Regions from separate parts of the Homo sapiens genome. Here region 2 is linked to region 1. A link means that fine-mapping ties the variant in region 1 to the expression of a gene that starts in the linked region. Tissue or cell type: cerebral cortex. Region 1 holds a variant in brackets; the other region holds the start of a gene. All regions are shown on one strand. Distances are from middle to middle.

Region 1 (8,101 bases):
AAGGCCCTGCACGGGCGGGTGCGCGGGGACCCGGCCTCTGTGCGGGTGCTGCTGCCCCTCGCCCACTTCTTCCTGAGCCACGGTGAGCCCAGGGTGGGGTGGCGCTGACTCGGGGCTCTGCTTCTGCCTTTAGTTTTAGGATGGAATTTCTTCTTCCCTTTTTTTTTTTTTTTTTTTTGATTGAATAGAGACAGGGGTCTTGCTGTGTTGCCCAGGCTGGTCTGGAACTCGTGGCCTCAAGCGATCCTCCTGCCTTGGCCTCCCAAAGTGCTGGGATTACGGGCATGAGCCACCGTGCCCAGCTCATATTTCTTTTTGATGGATTGCTGTGCCAGATGTTGGTAATTTTTAAACTTTTAAATAGAGAAATAAACAGACTCTTTTTGCTGTGTCCCTAGCCCAGGAAACCTGAAAGTCTAGGAACCAGCACCTTCCAAAGAATGTGCCATAGTGTGTGTGACTCACGAGCTGTCCGTGTCCCTGGGCGAGGGAGACCAAGTGCCGCTTCCCCAGCGTCCCAGCGTAGGACGCCTCGGAGCCCTTGGTGTCCTGGAGAGCAGGCCTGAGACTCAGGGCCCCTAACCAGTCACAGAAGCACGGCCAGGGCGAGGTCAAGACGTGTGCCCTGGCGGGCCCTGGTCTTGCAGGGGAAGCGGCTGCAGTGGACTCGGAAGCCGTCTACCAGCACCTGTTCACCAGGATCCCGGTGGAGCAGTTCCACAGCCCCATGCTGGCCTTTGAATTCATCCAGTTCTGCAGGGACAACCTCCACCTGTTCAGCGGGCACCTCAGCACCCTCAGATTGAGCTTCCCCAACCTCTTTAAGGTATATTTGGGCATCCCTGGGTGCCAGGGCAGGGGCATGGTAAGTCCCTGGGGCTCCTCCCCTCTTTCCAGCGGGGTTCAGGGCGAGTCCTGGCTGAGCATAGAGCCCTGTGAGTCCCGGGCCTGGAATGCGGTGTGCAGGGTGAGGTGGGGATCTGGGGTGTCCCTGCAGCGTCACGTGATTGACGGTGCTGTCCAAGAACTCCCTTGTGGGTGTTTTGGAGAGGGGGCTGTGACACAAGACGGTGAGTTTGTTCTCACAGCACTGGGGCAGGGCTGCTGCCTGGTAGGATCCCTCCCCCGGGAGCCCTGCCTGGTGCCTTGGGCACTTGGGTGCCATTTGCCTTTTTTTTTTCTTTTGAGATGGAGTCTCATTCCTGTCACCTAGGCTGGAGTGCAGTGGCGCAATCTCAGCTCACTGCAACCCCCGCCTCCTGGGTTCAAGCGATTCTCCTGCGTCAGCCACCTGAGTAGTTGAGATTACAGGCACCCACCACCATGTCCAGCTAATTTTTGGTATTTTTAGTAGAGATGGGGTTTCGACATGTTGGCCAGGCTGGTCTCGAACTCCTGACCTCAGATGATCCTCCTGCCTTGACCTCCCAAAGTGCTGGGATTACAGGCATGAGCCACCGCACCCGGCCTGGTGCCATTTGCTTTTGAAGTGTCTTTTGCAGCCTCGCCTCGCTGTAAGGTCTTTTCAACTGAGGTGGGGAATCCTCTTTCTGGAGAAAAACCAGGACAGTGGAAAATTATTGACCTGTTGGTACGAAAGTAGATACAGGCTGGGGGCAGTGGCTCACACCTGTAATCCCAGCACCTCGGGAGGCCAAGGCAGGAGGATCTTGAGGCCAGGAGTTCAAGACCAGCCTGGGCAACACAGGGAGACCTCTTGTCTACAAAAAGTAAACAGCCTCACATGGTGGTGTGTGCCTGTAGTCTCAGCTGCTCAGGAGGCTGAGGTGGGAGGATCACTTGAGCCTGGGAGGTTGAGGTTGCAGTGAGCTATGATTGCACCACTGCACTCCAGCCTGGGCGACAGAGCAAGACCCTGTCTCAAAAAAATAAAAAGCGGGAGGAGGCAAAGGTAGAAGCCCTCCTGGGGACTGCAGGTCTGGGACAGCTGTGGGGCCCTAGCTGGCTCCTCCCTCTGCCGCCTGCTCCACAGCTCCGAGCCGTGTCCGAACCGCTGTGCTGTGCCCACAGTTCCTGGCCTGGAACAGCCCACCCCTCACCTCCGAGTTTGTGGCGCTCCTCCCGGCCCTGGTGGACGCTGGCACAGCCCTGGAGATGCTGCACGCGCTGCTGGACCTGCCCTGCTTGACGGCGGTGCTGGACCTGCAGCTCAGGTGGGCCCCTCACCCTCTGCCAGCGCTGCGTCTCCCAGCCAGCTGGTTCCACACACTGGGCCCCCTCCTCGCTGCTCCTGACCCCTACACCGGGGACCCTCCTTCTTCCCCCCCCAACACCTGACCAGTCCTCCCCTGCAAAGCCACCTCTAGGACAGGGTGTGTCTGTCACCCTTGGCCACTTGCCAAGGGCAGCCCCTGCACCCTGGAGTGCCTCACCCGTCTTCACGCCCAGGCCTGGAGCCTCCCATGCCAAGCCCTTCCTGGCACCCGAGGTGCTGTGATATTAGGGACACCTGCCGTGTGTCTCCCTGACGGGGGTGCCCTTGAGTGCAGGGGCCGCATCCCAGCCTGGCCTTGGGCGTCTGTCCACGCAGGTCAGCACCGGCTGCATCCGAGAGGCCACTCTGGGACACCTCTCTCAGGGCCCCCAGCTGCCTGGAGGCCTTCCGGGACCCGCAGTTCCAGGGTCTTTTCCAATACCTGCTGCGCCCCAAGGCCAGTGGCGCCACTGAGAGGTACGGGGCCCTAGGGCCAGGGGGCCACCAGTGGCTCAGAGAGCCCGGCCACAGCCACTGGGGTGGGGCTCACTGCTCAGCCCTAGGCTGAGGCCAGGGTGCTTTGTGTCCCACACAAGGCTGCGTCCCCGTCATCACCATTATAGAGGCCCTGCTTCTGCACCACGGGTCTGCCGGGGGCGGGGCCTGGTCTCAGCTCTCTCTGCTGCCCACATCAACCCTCATAAGCTTGGAGGTTGGCCCTGTGGGTGCTCCATTTTGCAGATGGACAAACCGAGCCTGAGCCCAGGAAGCAGGAGGCCTGGGACCGGCCACAGGCCTCCTGCCCTCAGCCCACGCCAGCCTTTGTCCCGATGGCTTTACTGTCCCGGGTGTGCTGACGCCAGGGGTCTCCCCAAACCCAGGGGAGCAGGAGGTCCCGAGAGGCGATGAGTGAGGATGGGAGCGGGCTCAGCTGTGCGAGAGGGAGCAGTGGCGACGTGGCCCCGGCCTGCAGTCACCAGGTCGGGGAGCGGGCAGCACTCACGGCCACACTGTGTCCTCAGGTTGGCGCCACTCCACCAGCTGCTGCAGCCCATGGCCGGCTGTGCCCGCGTGGCCCAGTGTGCCCAGGCCGTGCCCACGCTGCTGCAGGCATTCTTCTCAGCAGTGACCCAGGTGAGCTCGC[T/C]GCCTGGGGCCCCCCATTCCCACAGGCCTCACAACTGAGGGGCAGGCCAGAGCCAGCACTGGGGGGCCCTCTTGAGCTCTGCAGAAGGCTGCTCCCGCCACACCCACCATCCACGGTCCCTGTGAGGGTCAGGGAGGCACATGCCACAGCCCCGGCAGGCCCCGTCCCTTGTCCCATCCCCTTTATTCCAGCAGGCCCCGTTCCCCAGTCCCCGTCCCATCCCCTTCATCCCGGCAGGCCACGTCCCCCAATCCCCGTCCCATCCCCTTCATCCCGGCAGGTCCTGTCTCCCATCCCAGCAGGCTCCATCCAACTGCCCCAGCAGGCCCTGTCTTCCGTCCCCAGGACAGGGCAAGTGAGTGGCCTGGGCTCTGGCCACACAGCTGGGGCCGGAGCAGTTTGTCCCCCTGCTGCCCCTGATAATTCAGCATCCCCATCTGAGGCCAAAATAAAGGCTCCCACAGGCTGGTGCCCCCCATCTCCCCCATTGCTGCTTCCCACCTCGGGGAGCTCTACAAGCCAGTGCAGGAGAGCCTGGGAGGTGGGGAGGCCGGCAGGGGGCTGGGCGTTGCTTGGGCGCACCCTTGGCCAAACAAGACGTGTGCCTGGCCTTGCAGAGCGGGAGTTGGCAGAGGAGCCGTGGAACAGAAGCGACACCTCTGCCGGGGGCACTTGGGCCAGCCCAGGGCTTCCCTCCCTGTGCCCGGATGCTGCCAGCTGAGTCTCTGTGTCCCTGGGTGTTGGGGAAGGCAGTGGACGAGGAGTCTCCAGCCCCTCACCTGCCCCCCAGCCCTCACCATGGCTTCACCCCCAACCTTAGGGCCTGCAGTGGGGGTGGGGCTGAGCCTGTTTCCCACTCCTGACCCCCAGGTGGCTGACGGGTCCCTGATCAACCAGCTGGCGCTGCTGCTCCTGGGCAGGAGCGACTCGCTCTACCCGGCCCCAGGGTACGCTGCCGGTGTGCACAGGTAGGTCCCTCCTGCGCTCCTGCCACAGCCCTGGGCGGGTGCCTCCTGGACTCCTCCCCCTCTCCCCTCCCCCCTCCCCTTCAGTGGCTTCGGCACCACCCCTAGCTGGGCCCTCAGCAGCCTCAGACCCTGCCACCCCCACCCACAGCCCCACACCCAGCCCCAGGCACTTCTCTCTGCTTCTCAAGAACATTCCCGTCCTTCTTTCTGCCGAGCCTGTCCTCTTCAGGGTTAGCTCAGGTCCCTCTTCCCCGTCTTGTCCCCTGGGGTCCTTCTCTCCAAAGGCCTGATGCATGCAGGCCCATCCTGGTTCCACTCTGAGCCTGGGCCTGAGGCCAGCGCTGGTGCCAGCCTTCTCCCCAGTGAGAACAGTTTCTCTGAGGCTGGCAGTCTTCTGTGTTCCTCTATCGGAGGGTGCAGCATACACCTACCACTCAGACGCTTCCCGGGTTTCTCCAGGCCCTTGGCCTGGATGGGGATGGGGTCATAGGTCTGCACAGAGCAGGCGTAGACCCGGCTTTCTGGGCAGTGTGCTGAGTTCTCAGTTCCTGGCCCTGTGTACGCTGAAACCCTCCCTGGTGGTGGAGCTGGCAAGAGACCTGCTGGAGTTCCTGGGCAGCGTGAATGGTCTCTGCAGCAGGGCGAGCCTCGTCACCAGCGTGGTAAGGCGGGCGCTGGCCTCCCACAGCCGCTCCTGACCCAGGAGGCCTGGGTGGGGGCTGAATCTCTGTCCCCGGGCCTAGGTGTGGGCCATCGGCGAGTACCTGTCGGTGACCTACGATCGGAGGTGCACCGTGGAGCAGATCAACAAGTTCTTCGAAGCCCTGGAGGCTCTGCTATTCGAGGTCACCCAGTGCCGCCCCTCTGCTGCCCTGCCCAGGTGTCCCCCCCAGGTGGTCACCGTGCTGATGACCACGCTGACGAAGCTGGCCTCCCGGAGCCAAGATCTGATCCCCAGGTGCCTGGTCAGGGAGGGAGCGAAGCCTTCTGGCTCCTGGGGAAGAGAGGTGGCTTCTGAGGTCTTCCCATCCAGGTGTTGTGAAATGGTCGCAGCAGCGCAGGTCCTGGGTGGGCCCTGCTGAGCTAAAGCCACTCTGCTGGGCGCTTCAGGCCTGGCCCCTCCACACAGACCCCTGTCCTGGGAGGGGAGCATCTGCAGCTGACGGAGGGACCTTCTTTCCCCAGGGCCTCTTTATTGCTGTCAAAGATGAGGACCCTGGCTCACAGTCCAGCCACCAGCTCCACGCACAGCGAGGAGGGCGCGGAAGCCATCCGTACCCGGGCCACAGAGCTGCTGACCCTGCTGAAGATGCCTAGCGTGGCCCAGTTTGTGCTCACACCCAGCACGGAGGTGTGCAGCCCCCGCTATCACCGCGATGCCAACACGGCCCTGCCCCTGGCCCTGCGCACGGTCAGCCGGCTGGTGGAGAGGGAGGCCGGCCTCATGCCAGGGTGAAGGGACAGTGGCCAGGGACTTCGGTGCAGATTAAGAGCCTGGGCAGCCAGCTTGCTACTGAGGCCAGGCTGATAGGAGCTCAGGAGGGCGCGGGAGTCCTGGGAGAGGAGGCAAGGCCCACGGTGGGCTTGGCACCCTCACAGACACGCGGGGCTGGCCCCCCTGCTCACCCTCTGGGCTTTGTCTCCGAGCCTTTTGCTCCCAGGCAACACTGAGCTGAGCTGAGGGGTGCCATGGAGCGGCTCTGATTGGAGGCTTGAGGCCCTGTGGCTGGGTCGGGTGGAGGCTGCTGGGTCTGTTTCCTAGTCTTTTGTTTTTGGACAGTTGATGGGCAAGAAGAGCTGCAGTAAAAGTAAATCTCCTTTAATAAGCGTCTGTATGAAGAGTGCGCGATCAGTTCCGTTACCTGCCCTGCACCCTGGGGAGAGGACCAGGGATGGGAACCCCTGGCAGCTGCTGCCAGTCCTGGAGGCTCAGCCCGGCGTGCCACTGCTGCTACAGAAACCAGGTCATTTGTGCACAGCCCGGAAGGCAGCGGCGCGAGTTCCCGGGTGTGGTCACCGCTCTGGGTGGTGCGCTTGTCAATGCCCCTTTTGATGCCCTTGAATAGCCTGAAGATGAAGGGGACCGGGGGAGGGTTGCAAGCGCCATGGCCTATGCAGGCTGCGGCCTCTGGCCATTCGGAGGGAAGGCCCCAGGGAGCCACCTGAGTGGAGCTCAGAACACTGGATTCGCGCGAAGGGGAGGTGTCTGGGCGTGCGGCCCCAGCCCCGCCACCTTCCTGGGCCCTGTGGTCCCACCCTCCGGACTACCAAGGCACAGCTGTGTCGCACGTTCCGCCCGGTGCCTGGGACGGGCTCAGCCGCCAGGGGGCGCCGCCGCCCCGAGAGCCTCACGCCCCGCCCCCAGGCTCAAACTCTTCCCCCTCCCCACTCTGGCTCCGCCCCCGGTCTCCTCTTTTGCTCTGGCCCCGCCCACCTCCCCTCCGGCCTCGGCCCCGCCCCCAATCCCCCATAGCTCTGCGACTAAGAAACCACAGGCTGAAGGCGACTGCAGGGTCCTGCCCCTTGCCCAGCCTCAGGACTATGGAGGGGGCGAGTGACGCGCAAGGAACGGAGCAGGGGACACCGTGCGGGCTCAGGAGCTCCCCAGATGCCCGAGCCGAACCGCGGGGTCCTCACCGCCAGGTTCCAGCCCAGGAAGCGCTCGCCTGCCCCACAGCCTGGGCCTTGGGTCGCGTTCCGAGCTCCAGGACGGCTGGTGTCCCCCGCGGCCTGCGATGACAGCCCAGGGCCGCTGAGCCGGGGCCGCAGGAAAGGCTGGCGCTGGCAGGCGCTTCCGTCGGCAGCACTGTGTTTGTGTTTCCACGTGGAAACAGCAGCGCACGTGTACAACTGTGCATACCAAGGCGTGCGTGCCAGTGCGCGGGTCTCGGGATCACTTCCCAGTGCGGTGCACGACCCCGCCTGCAGCAGTGGGTGTGGGGGCGCTGCTGGGCTCATCCCGAAGCTCAGAGAGCGTGGGGCTGCCCCTAGGCTCGGAATGAGTCTCCCACTGAGTCCGCAGCTCCCCTCCTGCCCTGGGGCGGGGCTTCCCTGACCTGAAGGCGTCGGGGGTGTCCTGGCTCCCAGCTCCCAGGCACTCGTGGGGCCACCGCCCAGGCCAGCTGGTGCTAAGTCCGCAGCCTGTGCAGCAGCGCCCGGCTTAGGACTGGGAGTGTGACTTGAAGGGCCGTCCCGCTCATCCAAGGGACAAGGAGGAGCTCATGGCCACAGGGCCTCGGAGGGCATGACCCCAGCCCAGGGAGGAGCAACCTTCAGGTGGCCTCCAGGAGGCAGCTGGGAAAAGGGCAAAGCTCACCAGCTCTCAACTTTTTTTTTAAATAAACTGAAATTTTAGAATAGTTTTTCAGATTTACAGAAAAGATGATAAACCTTAGAAACATTATATGCTAAGTGAAAGTGAGAAGTGACAGCCTGCTGGCAGTCCTCACAGCCCTCGCTCGCTCTTGGCGCCTCCTCTGCCTGGGCTCCCACTTTGGCAGCACTTGAGGAGCCCTTCAGCCCGCCACTGCACTGTGGGAGCCCCTTTCAGGGCTGGCCAAGGCCGGAGCCGGCTCCCTCAGCTTGCGGGGAGGTGTGGAGGGAGAGGCGCGGTGGGAACCAGGGCTGCACGCGGTGCTTGCGGGCCAGCGCGAGTTCCGGGTGGGCGTGGGCTCTGTGGGCCCCGCACTCGGAGCCGCCGGCTAGCCCCGCCAGCCTGGGCAGTGAGGGGCTTAGCACCTGGACCAGCAGCTGCTGTGCTCGATTTCTCACTGG
Region 2 (8,101 bases), 94 kb after region 1:
ACCACCACTCGCTTCCTCCAGAACCAGCCCAGGTCAGCCAGCAGCTGTGCTTTCTCCGAGGACCTTGAACTCTTCAGAAATACTTCCGACAGCTTCGCACACCAGAGACTGGGTTCCCAACGCGGACGTCTGCCCTGCGGGGTGGGTGGCTGGCCCTTCTCCTGTTCCTATAGCCCACTGCGGACACTTCACCACGGCAAAGGCTTTCGCTGTGCCTGGCTTTCTGAAGAGGTGAATTTGCTGTAACAGGTCACGGAGTTCCCAGTACAGGTCATAAGCAGATGGAGCCTTGAGGTTCCATCGAGCCAGGCCATAAAGGAGTAAAGGAGCAAAGCCTTTGTTTCTCTTCCTCTGAGGAAGGTGCAACGAGTGGCCTTGTCAAATCCTAAGAAGCTCAGAGCCGGCCGCAGCTTCCCCCACGGACTCATCAAAGGCCTCGGTTTCATTTACAACAAAAGCATTTTCAGACAGTGCTCACATCACAAACGTGCGGCCTGGCCTGTGCACACCACACCAGCGGCTTCCAATCGCCCTCTAGTCTGACCTCAGTCTCCTGTGGTCAGTTTTCAAAGTGAGTACTTGGAATCACAGAACAAAACCCCTCAAAGAGCCTCTCCAGCCGGCACTTATTAACCATCCATGAGAGCTGCACAACCCTGCTCCAAAGCACCTCTCCAGATGCCCCAGGCTTAGAAGCCTCCAGGCAGCACACACTGGCAGAGGGTCGGCCACCACCTTTTCATAGTGCTCATTTCCAACGGGTTCCCCAGGGTGCAAAGGCAAAGTGCAGGTGGTGGATGGTACAGCCTCTGCCACCAGGCAGCTGTGGCTCAGGAAACCTCTGCCTCCGGAGATGAAGTCTGAATGCTGATATAAATACGATACCAAAAACTGGGGAAGCCCCCTCCAGGCAGGAGAAAGCCCATATCACAGAAAAGTCATGAAGCAGAGCCAAGTATTTAAAAGGCCAAGGCAGGAGAATGGCTTAAGGCCAGGAGTTCAAGACTAGCCTGGGCAACATAACAAGATCCCAATCTCTACAGAAAATAAAAATAAAAAATTAGCTGGGCATGGTGTGCACCTGTAGTCCCAGCTACTCGGGAGGCTGAGGCAGGAGGATCACCGGAGCCCAGGAGTTCCAGGCTACAGTGAGCTATGATTGCGCCACGTCACTCCAGCCTGGGCAATGGAGTGAGACCCTCTCTGTTAAAAAAAAAAAAAAAAAAAAAAAAAAAAAGATGGCTGGGCACGGTGGCTCACGCTTGTAATCCCAGCACTTTGGGAGGCTGAGGCGGGCAGATCACGAGGTCAGCAGATCGAGACCATCCTGGCTAACACTATGAAACCCTTTTTCTACTAAAAATACAAAAAATTAGCCAGGCGTGGTGGTGGGCACCTGTAGTCCCAGCTACTCGGGAGGCTGAGGCAGGAGAATGGCGTGAACCCGGGAGGCGGAGCTTGCAGTGAGCCAAGATCATGCCACTGCACTCCAGCCTGGGCGACAGAGTGAGACTCCCTCTCAAAAAAAAAAAAAAAAAAAAGACAAAAATTGGCTGGGCATGGTGGTTCATGCCTGTAATCCCAGCTCTTTGGGAGGCCGAGGCGGGCAGATCACTTGAGGTCAGGAGTTCAAGACCAGCCTGGCCAACATGGTGAAACCCTGTCTCCACTAAAAATACAAAAATTAGCTGGGCATGGTGGCGGGTGCCTGTAACCCCAGCTACTTGGCAGGCTGAGGCAGGAGAATCGCTTGAACCCCAGAGGCAGAGGTTGCAGCAAGCCGAGATCACGCCACTGCACTCCAGCCTGGGCAACAGAGTGAGACTCCGTCTCAAAAAAAAAAAAAAAGACAAAAATTATAAAAAGGCCCCCAAATACAATGGAAAAGTGAGTTGATATTTGGGGCCCAGGGGTGGATATATGTTTTGTAAGGTCTGACATTTACATAATTCTTCTTTAATAAAAAACAAATAGAAAATTACAAACACACAACTGCTAGGTCTCCTCCCAGGGTCTTAGAAGCTTGAACTTCAGAAATGTTGTTCCCCCCACTTCCCCCCACCCCTGCTTTTCCCACAGTTTCCGGAGCCGGATTCGAAGGCAGAGGCAGAGTTAGCAGTATCATGAAACAGGAGAAAATGTAAGCAGAGAGAATATGATTGACTCCTTTCCAATAACTCCTTCTTAAGCCCCCAGAAGTCCCTGTTACACAAACCTTATCTGTTTTGGGATTTTCAGAAAGCATTTCTCTCCGTTTGGTCATCCTCCCTTGGCCAGACCAGAGGGTGCCCACTTGTTCACACGCTGCCCGCTTCCGAATCCCAGAAGGCGGAGCCTGGCCTGTTTGTGAGAATGGGATGGACTCGTTTTTTAAAAGGCCAAGGGGAGTGCAGGAAAATCCGACCGGGCGGAGCACGCCCTGGGTAACAAGATCTGTTTTTCTGGAAGTGCGACCGGCCTCTTCTGCCCCATTCGCTCCTCTGTGACACAAATACTTGGGGAAAGCGCAGGGCTCGGACAGCGAGGGTGTGGGGCGCTGGCTGGTGCTGCTCTTAGAGAATGTTTTCTCTTGTTCTCAAGGAAGGGTCCAGTTTCTGATGAAAAACAAGCTCAAGTCCCAGCGGCGAGTACAGGGAGTGAGGTCAGTGCTGCGCTGACGACATGGGTGGAGCGACCTCTCTGCTCCAACAGGACAATGTGGAACCCATTATCATTTCCAGCAGGAGGGAAAACGAAGCGCAGACTTTACACACTCAGCTCTCTCCCCTCCTTCCATGAATCCTATCTTTACAGCCCCAGCCCGAGCCACGCTTTCAAATGCAAACATAATTCAATCAGATTTAATTCTGACCTGCTAGCTGCTGGAGAGGAGACCGACTTGCCCCCCAGCAAAAGGGACTTTCAAGACTGGTTCCTGTCTGGAATGCACAAGAGGTGGCCTATATTAACCGCGGGACACGAGCAATCAGATTCTTCTGTGCAATTCAGATTAGCCAAACACTTGACAGGCGACAGGGCAGGGCAGGATGGTCCGCAGCCCCGCCAGGGCCCTGCCAACCCCACCAACAGGCTCCTCCTGCGAGGCCCCAGGAGCTCGGCTCAGCATCTGTTATCTTGGATGCAGTATTTGTCGAGGGGCTGGAAATGGTACATAAATAGCCGGGAAACAATGCTTTGAGCTGGCGCACGAGTGGGGATCGGGCTGCAACCGGGACGGGGTATGTGCAGGGGACGTCTCGCCGGCCCAGGTGGGAGAGCGCGCGGAACCCTGCGCCCCGCTCCCCCGCTGCGCCCCGCTCCCCCGCTGCGCGCCCCGGACGAAGCTCCCCCTCCAGGGCACAGCCGGGAAAACTGAGGGCCGAGAGTCCCCTGGAGTTGGGGGTCCGGGGCCCACGCGGACAGCCAGGCTCAGGAGCTCTCGGGGGTCGGCAGCGCGGACCCCCGGATCCCCGCAGGCTGGGCCGCCCTTGCCCGCGCTAGCCGGCCTCCGGGTACCGCCCCCCGGTCCAGGCCGGGGCCCGACAGCCAGTCGGTTCCCATGGCAACTGGGCAAACCTGCCCTCCGCGCCCCGACCAGCGGCCGGGAGTGTCCCCGAGCGCGCCCCGCGGCCTCCGCGCCCCAGGTCCCCGGCAGCGGCCGAGCAGCGCCCCTTACGAGCCACCCCCGGTTCCGCAGTCACTCCTCGCGCACCCCACACTCACCTCCGGCACAACCCGCCGCGCCGCCACGTTCCCGCGCTGCTCCCACCCGCCGTTGGCTGGGGCCGGCGCCCAGACCCGCGCGTGCCGCGGCGCCTCCTGCCGGCGGCGCAACGGGCGGGGCGGGGCCTCAAGGGGACGGGGCCACAAAGGGTGGGGCGGGGGAGAACAGGTGGGCTGGAGCTGGGCCTCGGCGCCCAATAGGCAGAAAGAAAGCCTCGAGGAGGCGGGGTCTCCAGGAGAGGGGCGGGGCCAACCTGCTAGAAAAGGCGGGCTGTGCTCTGGCGCCTCCTGCCGGCCGCCCAATGGACGGGGATGCAGCCTCGAGGGGGCGGGGCCTCACCGGAGAGGCGGGGTTTTGAAGAAAGGGGTGGGGCTGGTTGTGGAGAGGCGGGACTTGCAGCCCACCCACAGACTGCAGCTTAAGGAGGGGGGGTCCCCGGAGGAAGGGTGGGACCAGTTCTAAGTCCCTGAGCTGCTTGTGGGCTCTGGGCTCCTGCGGTTGGGTGGGCTATTTCGAGACAGCACCTTCTAGTAGCCCAGTGAGTGGGTGTAGGGGAGGGTAGAGCTGTGCCCCCAATTAATAAACATCTTCTAAGACATCGAAAAGGAACAAGGGAGGAATTTCCTCTCCCCTACCATCTGTCTCCCACCCAGAGTTTTAAAAGACAAATCAGGTCATGGCATTCCTGCTTACAATTATGCAAAAAAATGACCAGGTCAGCTCTGGGGCTCTGGCCCCAACTGCTCTCCCTGGGGACTTGTTTAAAAAGCAGCTCGTGACCTCGGCACTTTGGCTGGGGTTTTCCCTTTGAGGAATGTGGGCTAGACCTGGGAGATTCAGGTGGTTCGGAATATCAATATGCAGAATGTGGGCCTCGGGAGTGAACCTTTTTGTGGACAGCTATCGTGGTATGATTTCCGTAGTCATGACCCCATATTCGCGATGGAGGTCGGAGCAGACATTGATGAGTGTGGGAACAGACATTTATTGACCACCTGTGTGCCAGGCCCTAGGCAACTTTACCTAGGTCACCTCACTTAATGCTCACATCAATTCTTGTGAGACAGAGATGTCTGAGACATTCCAGGCCTCCCCTTTCCTCCACCTATCACCTGCTAATCCTAAAGTCCACCTCCTAAACCTTTTCTAATAAAAAATAGTGCCTCAAAGTCAACACAGAGAGACAGATTTGAGCCAGGCTCCTGTCTCCTTATTGATCAACTCACAATACGGACAAAAAAAGCTTTTGTCTCAAAAACTTAATGCAGTAAGATTGGCTTTTTTTTTTTTTTTTTTTTTTTTTTTTTTTGGAGACAGAGTCTTATTCTATTGCCCTAGCTGGAGTGCAGTGGTGTGATCTCAGCTCACTGCAACCACCACCTCCCAGGTTCAAGCGATTCTCCTGCCTCAGCCTCCCGAGTAGCTAAGGTTAACAGGCACCTACCACCACGCCCACCTAATTTTTGTATTTTTAGTAGAGACGGGGTTTTGCCATGTTGACCAGGCTGGTTTTGAAATCCTAACATCAGGTGATCCACCCACCTCAGTCTCCCAAAGTGCTGGAATTACAGGCATGAACCTCTGCACCTGATCAAGATTGGCTTCTAGCAGAGCAAGCGCAGAACCCTTTTGTTCAGTAATACTCCCATTTTTCAGATGAGAAAATAGAGACGCAGAGAGGTCAGGCTGCTGGAGGTAGAGACAAGAACTGAGCCAGGAATACAGGACCCTCTGTATACACACCAACCTCCTCGCCTACCCCAGGAAGGGATGCTTGAAAGGAATGACGTGCTTGAATATTTCATTCAGGTGCGCATGAAGAGACAATGGTCAGAGCTGAAGGAGAGCCTGGGTTCAGGCCTGGGTTTTCCTCCTGAGATATTCCTCACCCTGCTCCTGGCCCATCTCCCACAGTCCCCACATCCTTCTTCCACAGGGGTCGGATAACTACAACCCATGGGCCAGATCTGGGCTGCCTTCTGTTTTTGTAAATAAAGTTTTATTCAAACACAGCTACCCTCATTTGTTTAGATATTATCTACGACTGCTTTCCTGCAACCAGGATTTTACAGCCCCAAATATCTAAAATATGACCTGGCCCTTTATAGAGAAACTTTTCAGATTGCTTCTTGATCTAGAAATGCTGACTTTTTGGTATGAATATGCTGTTTCATGCCTCGAGATCTTCCCTCAGGCCGGTCCCTTGACCTTCAAACACCTTTTCCAACTGTATTAGATTAGCTGAGCTGCTATTAAAAAATGCCAGATCAGGTGGCTCGAAAAACGGAAATGTTTTATCTGGCAGCTCTGGAGGCTGGAAGTCCAAGGTGAAGTTGTCAGCAGGTTTGGCTTCTTTGAGGGCCTCTATCCTTGGTTTGCAGACGGCCACCTTCTGGCTGTGCCCCCACATGGCCTTTCTTCTGGGTGTGCACCTCTCACCTGTCTCTTTGTGTGTTCAATCTCCTCTTTTTATAAGGACACTAGTCAGATTAGACTAGGGCCCATCCTAACAGCCTCATTTTATCTTAATCACCTCTTTAAAGGCCCTGTCTCCAAATATAGTCACATTCTGAGGTGTGAGGGGTCGGGGCTTCAACAAACACGTGAATTTTAGGGGGACAAAATTCAGACCATAACAGCAAACTTCATTACCTGGCTAACTTCTTTTTTTTCAAATGTGTGTGTGTATATATATATATATATATTTTTTTTTTAGATGGAACCTTGCTCTGTCGCCCAGGCTGGAGTGCGGTGAGGCAATCTTGGCTCACTGCAATCTCTGCCTCCCAGGTTCAAGCGATTCTCCTGCTTCAGCCTCCTGAGTAGCTGGGATTATAGGCACCTGCCACCACGCCTGACTAATTTTTGTAATTTTAGTAGAGATGGGGCTTCACCATGTTGACCAGGCTGGTCTCGAACTCCTGACCTTGCAATCTGCCTGCCTCAGCCTCCCAAAGTGCTAGGATTATAGGCATGAGCCACCACACCCGGCCGCTAATTTCTACTCATCCTTTGAGACTCAGATAAGGCGTTTCTTTGGTAGTAGCCAACCTCCAAGATGGCCCCAGTGATTCCCACCTCTTGGTTTTCATGCTCCTGTATAGGCCCATGTTGAATAGGGCAGACTTGTGTAATCAGTAAGATACTGCCAAAATGACACTGTGACTTCTGGAACACAATCATAAAAGACGTGGCTTCTGCCCTTGCTCTCTCTTAGATCAGTAGTTCTGAGGTCAGTGAGCCATGGTGGATGTGAGTCCTCCAGCCCCAGGAGACTTTAGGTGACAGACATCCCAGCTGGAGTCCATTGAAGGACCCTGAGCCAAAAAAGCTCCCTCCTCCCTGCAGCAAAGCTACTCCCAAATTCCCAACCCTCAAAGACTATGAGATGATAATTTTTTTTTTTTTAGATGGAGGCTTGCTCTGTTGCCTAGGCTGGAGTGCAGTGGTGCAATTTCAGCTCACTGCAACATCCACCTCCCGGATTCAAGTGATTCTCCTGCCTCAGCCTCCCGAGTAGCTGGGAATACAGGCACCTGCCACCACCCCCACCTAATTTTGTATTTTTAGCAGAAATGGGGTTTCCCCATGTTAGCTAAGCTGGTCTCGAACTCCTGACCTCAAGTGACCCACCCACCTCAGCCTCCCAAAGTGCTGGGATTACAGGCATGAGCCACCACATCCAGCTGATAAATGTTTATTATTGACCTCAGCTACTAAGTTTTGGCAGCAGTTTGTTACGTAGCAATGGATAACTAATACCCCTTATCCAGAAAGATCTTCCTGTCTCCTAGACCTGGTTACATGTCCTCTTGTGTGCGCCCACAGTCTTTTATTTTTGTTACCTTTTTATTAAGCAAGTCCACATCAATCACACTATGTTCCTTAAACCTAAACCAGATGTTATTACTCCTCCACCTATAACCCTCTCATAACTTTTCCTTTTGCACTTAGAATAAAGTAGGTTTGCAAAACCCAGCTCCAACTGCTCTCTTCCTTGGCCTTGGATCTCCAGCCCTCAGAACTTCTTTCCTCAAGCACTCTGAGGTCATCTCCCTTCTCCGAGACCTTTCCTCTTTGGTCTCCTTGACCCCACAGCCTTCCCTCTGTGTTTTCATGCTGGGCCCCTTCCCAGCGCAGAAACTCATCTCCCTTCCTGTCTTCTGACCACCTCTTGACCATCACCCCCGAGTCATTCTCGATTTTATTATACATATATATATTATACATATATATAATATAGAGAGATTTAATTTATATATATTTATAAATATATAATTTATATATATATATATATAGAGAGAGAGAGAGAGCATGAGACAGAGAGATAGGGTCTTGCTCTGTTGCCCAGGCTGTAGTGCAATAGTGCAATCATAGCTCACTGAAGCCTTGACTTTC

Alleles and levels. Positions count from the first base shown, and alleles are read on the strand shown. Sizes are in standard deviations (SD) of each study's normalised expression.
In carriers of allele T in region 1, the expression in cerebral cortex of the gene that starts at base 3,823 in region 2 tends to be lower than with C alone (large effect, 0.76 SD a copy in GTEx).

The links. PIP is the estimated chance that this variant, and not a neighbour inherited with it, causes the effect.
Region 2: it holds the start of RADIL, and the variant in region 1 is fine-mapped to the expression of RADIL in cerebral cortex (GTEx, PIP 0.96).

The regions. Positions count from the first base shown.
Region 1 is chr7:4,785,603-4,793,703 of GRCh38, forward strand. AP5Z1 (adaptor related protein complex 5 subunit zeta 1) reads left to right here. Exons shown (of 17, transcript NM_014855.3): 9 at 1-82; 10 at 648-826; 11 at 2,032-2,174; 12 at 2,552-2,692; 13 at 3,238-3,349; 14 at 4,230-4,327; 15 at 4,857-4,989; 16 at 5,071-5,285; 17 at 5,513-8,101. The coding sequence ends at 5,783. MIR4656 (microRNA 4656) reads right to left here and starts at 3,037; the gene lies at 2,963-3,037. RefSeq lists a silencer at 6,632-6,751 and enhancers at 7,142-7,221, 7,326-8,000. The variant T/C (reference allele first, on the strand shown) is at 3,360.
Region 2 is chr7:4,879,894-4,887,994 of GRCh38, forward strand. It overlaps RADIL (Rap associating with DIL domain), which reads right to left and starts at 3,823. Exons shown (of 15, transcript NM_018059.5): 1 at 3,703-3,823. RefSeq lists enhancers at 2,525-2,819, 2,549-3,237, 3,238-3,925 and a silencer at 3,635-3,854.